2 linked regions of the Homo sapiens genome follow. The protein of the gene in region 1 interacts with the protein of each later gene in a pairwise test. Each region holds a gene or a part of one and is shown in the gene's direction. Other genes may lie near its edges.

Evidence for each region. The genes of interacting proteins can lie anywhere in the genome.
Region 2: the proteins of MAP3K20 (region 1) and ZNF71 interact in binary tests that used the Homo sapiens proteins (3 or more experiments, as listed by UniProt).

The regions. Positions count from the first base shown.
Region 1 is NC_000002.12:173,225,815-173,229,560, forward strand, and holds part of MAP3K20 (mitogen-activated protein kinase kinase kinase 20), read left to right. Parts: exon of another isoform or gene 1-1,332; intron 1,333-3,746. UniProt on the Homo sapiens protein: Stress-activated component of a protein kinase signal transduction cascade that promotes programmed cell death in response to various stress, such as ribosomal stress, osmotic shock and ionizing radiation.
Region 2 is NC_000019.10:56,593,036-56,596,781, forward strand, and holds the start of ZNF71 (endothelial zinc finger protein induced by tumor necrosis factor alpha), read left to right. Parts: upstream 1-2,266; 5' UTR 2,267-2,393; intron 2,394-3,746. UniProt on the Homo sapiens protein: May be involved in transcriptional regulation.

The DNA.
Region 1 (3,746 bases):
GGTTTCTTTCTCCTTAGAAATGCTGGTGGCAACTTGATGAAACAGCCAAATGCACCAGGGCAGGTCACTTTCCCATTACACTGATTCCACAATTAAAAAAAAAAAAGAAAAAAAACTCATTGAGATAGCTACAGTTCTATAGGTTAATTTAAAGCCTCCTTTTTCTACTCATTTTTGAAAGCAAAATTACATTTTACTATTTTACATAACCAGTGAAAAGACGTTGAAAGCCTACAGCTCACTGTTTTTGGTGCTCTGGAAATGTTGAGGGTGGGTTTTTAACCAGTGATTTTTAACGTGCAGTGAATTTGTTAGACTTTTAAACACCAGCTAAGGTAGTCAAACTTGATCCCCATTAAAAATCAAGGAATTAGGGGTCGGGGGAGGGTTTAGGAGTGATCCAGAATGACCTCCCAGAATTACTGTGCGTACAACTTTATTTTTCAGAGTTTTCATTGGAATGGTAAGAGTTTTATGAAAGACAGTTTTAAAACTTATTCTGAGTTAAATATTAATACTTTAAAAAATTATTGTACTAGACTTATTGCAGCCTTTTGAAAGTAGCAGAGTTTCATCATACCACATATATAACAGAGCATAAATTTTCTATAATCAGGCACCTTTTGCTGCTTTTGAGTAAGACTGTTTTCCTGTTTAAGTGTTAAGCATCGCCAGACATAAAAATCTATTCTCTCCTCTCGATTGTAGCATAGCCTGACAGCTCTAGATACAGCATTTCTATGATGAAAAATGAGTATCCATCAGGAAATCTAGAAGACTAGCCGTGTTTTCTCAGACTCCACCTTTGTTTGCACTCTGTTGCCTGTGAGGAGCTTTCTGGCATGTGATTATTTACTTCAAAACTAGAGTTCCAAGCACCTACATTAATTATTTTATATTGTGTGCAGAATAGTATATCTTTTAATGTCAGATATGATACACTGCACATATTGCTTTTGCACTCTTAAAATTTTTGTACTAAATAATAGAAAATATTTATATTCTTTGAGTGTGAGCTTTGAATAGATGGCATTATCACTTTATTGTTTTTTTAACAAAAACTTTTTCTCAATTATTCTATTGCAATGTTATTCTGAGCAAGTCCTATGCCAAATATCTTGTATAATGTTTGTATGGAAGATTAAATTTTACTCTTGTGTGGTAAGACTATTTCAGTTACTGATTTTATAGTTGGAATTTGATATTCCAGCACAAAGTCCACAGTGTATTCAGAAATCCAAGTTGGTGTCATACATTTCATTTTGATGTGAACTTTTCTTTGCTTTCCTTTGTTCTAAGACTCCATTTTGCAATAAACGTTTTGACAGTAAATCCCTTTGTTACGTGTTGCTGTGTATATAAGATCCCTGTTAGATTGGATTCCCAACATCCTTTGAAGGAATCGTTGTCACACGCATGCAAACAAGTGTTAGCTTTTCTCTCCTAAAGTCAGTGGGAGTGTAAATAATAAATTTGTAAAGTGATGGGACAGTCATGGGGTGGATTTTTTTTTTATTCCCTAAAGAAAGAAAGGCTTAGAACTCATCCTACAGCAGATACACTGATATGTTAACAAGGTACAGAAAACATAAAGGAAATGGTAAGCCACTCTGTGGCTGGAGATCATTAACTCTTATCCCCCGTCTTGCCAAATTCAAGCTGTCATGAAGCAGTGCCTGGCTCCAGCCTTCCTCTCACTGATCTTTGCTAGCATTGTGCAAAGAATCCTGCTGGAGTGAGCGTCCAGCTGAAGCCAGTGCCTTTCCCTAGGCATCGTATTGGAGAACCATCCTCAGTGTGCAACCAACCCCCTCTCCTTTCAACATTAAAACCAAAGATTCTGGTTGTGATTAGTTATTTCATTTACAACTTCTATTCTATTCAAAAAAATACTTCTTTCTCAATTTTGTTTAGTACAACATTTAGGAATTTTATAAAAATAACACTACACATCCCCTCCCCCCAACCCAGTTTCTATAAAGGTGAGCCTTGATGCAGGAAAATATTTCTGTAACTCAGACTGTTGTTTCTTGAACGAACCAAAAAAGTTTCGTATTTCACATTTGCTTCTGTGATGGGAGAAGGGAATGGCATGATTCTGCAGCTGTGTCCAGCTGCCCTGTGAAGAGACAAAATTGTCACCTATTTTTCTTTGATCCAGTTCAGCTTTAGATTCTGTTCCTCAAATCTTTCTCCTTTCCCCATTATTAAAGCAAGTGAATGTGTGTGATGACTCCTACCCACCTCAAGTGTTTCCGAGGAGGCAAGGGCAACCCTGGAGGGAAGGGAAGCACATGCAGGTAGCAGAGTATACGCAGAACAGGATCGATTTCAGTGTGTACTTTATGTCCTGACAACTTGTCTATAAATACTCAAACCTAAACATTCATATCCATTTCAGCTAGTGGGTTTTTCCGCTTGCCTTCCCACCCTGTCTGCCTCATTTACCCTTTTTCCTCCAACATGAACTCACTGCCTTCCATTCCCATCCTTCCCTCCTGTCCCTCCCTCTCCCGCCATGCCAGGTTTTGCCTTGTTGCTTCTCTTTACCCGGAATCACCTCTCTTCTTGCCCTGAAGGACCCAGCTCAAGCCGTGCTGCCCTCCATTCTCCCATCTTATTTTATGAATCCCTTTGTGAATACATCTGTCTATGGTATACCCATAGACATTGAACTCTATACCAGAGAACTTAGCATTCCAGTAAATGCACCCTTTAATTTTATTCATTCTTTAAAATGACTCAACAAAAATTTACCAGATACCGTATGCCAGGCACTATGTTAGGCATTAAGTAAACCGAGATTCAGGTGACCTTGGAATCCCCCAGGTATAATTTATAACTGTATTAGTCCCAGTTAAATTGAAAGCTCCTTGAAGGCAGGGGCTGTGCCTTTCCTAGCAGAATTTTGAGCATGTGGGTACAAAATACCTGTAAGTTAGAAAGGTTAACTCACCTACCCTATGATTTTTATACTAACAGTAAAAGCAACCAAACTCAACTTTTTTTTGAAACTCACTCACAAGAAAATATTTGTAACAGAAGATGAGTGACAATTTGCCATATTATCTCATAAGCAATTCATTTTTGGGGGGCAAGTTAGGCTAGTTAAAGCTAATAGCTGTACCAAACTCTAATTTGACTTATAGGACACACAGACTTCTAAAAATTATGTAAGCATTTATTATTTAGATGGCCATGGGGCATATATTGAAGACAGTAAGTAGTTCTTTGGCTCTGAAAATGGTGCAGGCTGAAGTCCTCTGGAGGCATCTTCATTTGTACTTGTGAACCTCACAGGGAGGTATTTTAATCTGTTTTAGTTAGAGCAACTCTGCAGCCTGGGTTTCTTAGGACCGTACCAATTTCCCATGTCCTTCTTCATCCGTGAGTGCTAACATTTGGTTTTTAAAATATTGTGCAAATGAGATCTTTCAACACTTAGAAATTCCCCCTTGAGAACAGGCATAATACATGATCTGGTTACTAAGTGGTTGCTTTGGAATTTTCATTAATAATCCAACAGTCCTCATGTTGGCTGAGACTCTGAGGAAGACTCTAGGTCTCTGAGAAAATGTCAGAAATTGCTTGACTGCTGAGGCTTGATTGTGGGATGTAAAAACCAGGTACCAACAAAGGAATATGATACAGCTCCCAAAGTACATGAATTGTTACTGAGAGATTGGTGAACATTACTGGAGCACTGAGAACTGCCTCTTAAGGTCAGGAAAACTGTTTTCCATTCA
Region 2 (3,746 bases), on another chromosome or scaffold:
TCACAGGACAAATACTTTATGATTCCACTTACATGTGGAATCTAAAATAGTCAACCTCATAGAAACAGAAATTAGAATGGTGGTTTCCAGGGGCTGGGGGAGGTGAGAAGACGTTACTCAACGAGTATAAAGTTTCTGTTATGCAAGATAATTAAGTTCTCTCTATACAGCAACTTGAATATATCTCCAGAGAATTGTGCTGAATGAAAAAAGCCAATTCCACCATTCACATACTGTATGATTCCATTTGTATAACATTCTTGAAATGACACAATTGTATATATGGAGGATAGACTAATGATCGAGTCTGGAGGAAAGTGAGTGTGGCTATAAAAGGGCAAGATGAAGGATCCTTGTGGAAATATCGGAAGAGATCCTTGTGATGGAAATGTTCTGTCTCTTGAATGGACCGACGTCAGTATCCTACTTGTGATATTGCAAGATGTTGCCCTTGGGTGAAATTACCTAAGAGACATAGGTCTCTCTGTATGATTTCTATATTATGTTTTACAACCTGACGTGAATAAATCCACATTTATCTCAGAATAAAATATTTCATTTAAATACATCATTAATCACCACCTAAGGCTAGCTGCTGTTGATGGTTTTGTGGCCACTTGGACATTCAGCAAATGTTTTTAAACTTGGCTTTGTGGTTTACTATAGAAAAGGGTCTCAGCCAGGCATCTGGTTCCTACCTTTCCTCTTGTGTAAGCTCCCCTGTCTGTATTACCCAACTAATCTGGAAAGTAGCTTGGCTGTGAAGATTGTTTATAAATCATAAAATGTGGAGACCAGGGGTCAGAACAAAGGAAACTCACAACAAGGATTAATGCTTTTTTTCTTATATCTAAAGATATAGGGAATTGACATTTAAAGATCTAGTTGTTTTTTATTTGCAATTCTAGAATCCAGCCACACCTCCTTCTATAAAATAGAACTAGTGTTCTGGTGATCCAAGCAGAGGAATATGGCTTCATACACAGAAACGGGCTGAGGAAAGCAGAAACAGAGAACAAGAGTGGATGGGTCATTTCAAAGTTACTTTCCCTATCATGGTTAAAGCAAAGGGGATTTCTTTTATCATGCCTGCTAAACTGGCCTGTTTGGGACTTGGCTATTATCTCTCTCTTTCTCTCCTGAGAGGAGGTCAGGTAACAACTTAGTTGGAGTTGGTGGCCTGGAACTTCAGCATGAGTAGCTCCATTTCGATTTGATCTGTTGGGCCTAGTGCAGGAACTCAGTCCAAACCGATAGTCTCCTATACATTTTATTCTACACCTATGCTCATTTTCTTCTTTGCACATCTGTATGCTTAAAAAGTGTTCTTTAAAGATAAGCATGATTATCAGGTTTAAAGTTGCCTGGGATGGTCCCTCAGGCCAGTCCATTGGCTGGACTGCAGAAATGTCTGCAGCAGATGTGACACGCCTCTTTTATCCCCCTCATTTCTCTGCCTCCACCCATCCCTTGTCCTTTTCTGTTTTCCTTCCTCCCTCCTCCCTCTCCTTACCCATTCTTTCCTCTCTTCAGCCTGTCCTGCCCTCCCCAACTCGACTTCCTCTTTCTTTCCTCCTTTTCCCACCCTTTTCTTCTTCCTTATAGTCCTTTCCACCTTCTCATCCCCCTTTCCACCCTTTCTTCCTTCTCCTCCTTGCCGTCTCCATTCTCTTCCTTTCCTGCCTCCCTGCCCCTCCCTCCTCCCACCCGCTCCCTCTTCTTTCTGTTGGTTCCTCTCCTCTCTGACCTGTTCTTTTCCCTTAGTCTCTCCCCAGCCCTTCCTCCTTCCCCTCCATCCTTCTTCCAACCCCTCCTCCTTCTCCATCTCTTCTTCTTCCTCCCCAGCTCTCCTCCCCAAGTCCCTCTCCATCCTCTCTCTTCTCCCCGCTCCTCCCCATCCCTCCTCCCCTTCCATCCTTCTTCCCACCTCTCCTACTTCTTTTCTCCCTCCTCCCCCCTTCCCTCCTGTCCCTCCTCCTCGCCCCTCCTTTCCCTCCGTCTTTCTTTCCACCCTTCCTCCCTCCGTCTCTTCTCTCTCCTTCCCTTTCCCTGCCTCCTCCCCCTCAATCCTCCCTCTCGCCCCAGCCTCCTTGGCCGCGGAGTCCTCTGTGAGATGGAGGAGCTCAGTTGGCTCCGCTCGGCTCCACTCGGCTGGGCTCGGCTGAAAAAAGCCGGGGGGAGGTGGCGCGCGCGGGTTTCTGGGAAGCGTAGTCCGGCGCAGTCCGCGCAGGCGCACTGCCGTCGGGCGGGCCTAGCGGGCGCGGTCATTGTCCTGGCAGAGCGGCGAGCCGGTGAGTGTGGCTGCGGGGTCGCGCCCACCCTCTACCTGTGCCGGGGGCCGGAACCTGGCCCCGGGGAGGGCGCGGCCTCGGGGAGACGGCGTGCAGGCCCAGGTACGGGGAGTGCAGGGCTGGGTGCTGGTCCAGGGCGTGCGGGCGCAGGAGAGGGCGTGCAGGCCGGGACCGAGGTGCGCCTGGAGAGGCTGAGCGGCCGAGGAGAGGCTGAGGGGAAGCTGAGGGGCTAAGGAGAGGCTGACTGGAGGCTGAGGGGCTGAGGAGAGGCCGGGGCCAGGGAGGGAGAGGCGTGAGTGGGTTGGAGGTAGGAAAGTTGCATGAACACGAGGGCCATCCTGGGGGGAAGGTGGCCTGTGTGAGAGACAGGCAGTGCATATCATCCTGAGGATGAGGCTGTGTCTTTGTGGATATTGTGAATGTGTCTGTGTGTGTGTCTGTGTGGGTCTGTATGTGTGTGTGAGACAGATTGTGTCGTCCTGAGGGTATGGCTGTGTCTCTGGATATTGTGATTGTGTGTGTGTGTTTGTGTGTGTGTGTGTGTGTGTGTGTGTGTGTGTGTATGAGACAGAGAGAGAAACTGCGTGTCGTCCAGAGGCTGGGTCTGTGAATGAATGTGAATGTGTCCATGTATGTCCGTGTGGGTCATGTGTGGTAGCGTGTGTGTGTGTGTGTCCCACTTCTTCAGAGTCTTGGTCTCTCTGTGGAGCTGTGTCTCTCCAGGTCTCTGCCTATGCATGTGTGGTGATATCTCTGAGTGACTGCCTGTGTCCTTGTCTTTGGTGTTGTGGGTGTGTCAGCCTTGATCTCTGTCCATGAGTGTCTCTGTGGGAGGGTGCCCTCTGGGTGTCCACTATGTCTGCTCTTTCCATGCATGTCTCTTGGCATGAGTGTAGGGCTGTGTCTTTCCAGGGGCCAGTCCTGTCTGGATCTTTCCTATCTCTGTGTGTCCACCTGTGTCTAGAGTATTTCTTGATGTTTGCGTGTGACTCTGCAGGGGTGGGTGCGTCTGGGTGTGCCTCTTCCAAAGACTATATGCCTGGACAAGGGAGCCTAGCAGAGCCACTACCTTCTCACCCTACGCTTCTCCTAGTCTGCCTGCCCACAGTTCCCTGGCTTTTTCCTGCCCATAGAAGGCTCTGGAGGCGTAGGGGCCTGGGAGTGACAGGGGCCGGGTGGAGGAGGGGAAAAGGAAGGCTGTTTCTTCTGCCTCCCACAGGATCTTCTTAAAGTGGGATCAGACTCCCAAAGGGTCTCTGTGCCCTACTCTGTTCTGACCAAGGAGAGGTTGATTTGTTCAGGGAATGTGTATGCAGCCAGTGCTGGCCATTTATAGATGTCCCAGTAACTCTGAGGTAGAGACCATCATCATCCTTATCTTACAGATGGGGAAACTGAGTCTCAGACTAAGTGACTCACCCAAGGCTACCTCAGGCATCCAGGTTCCAGAGCCCC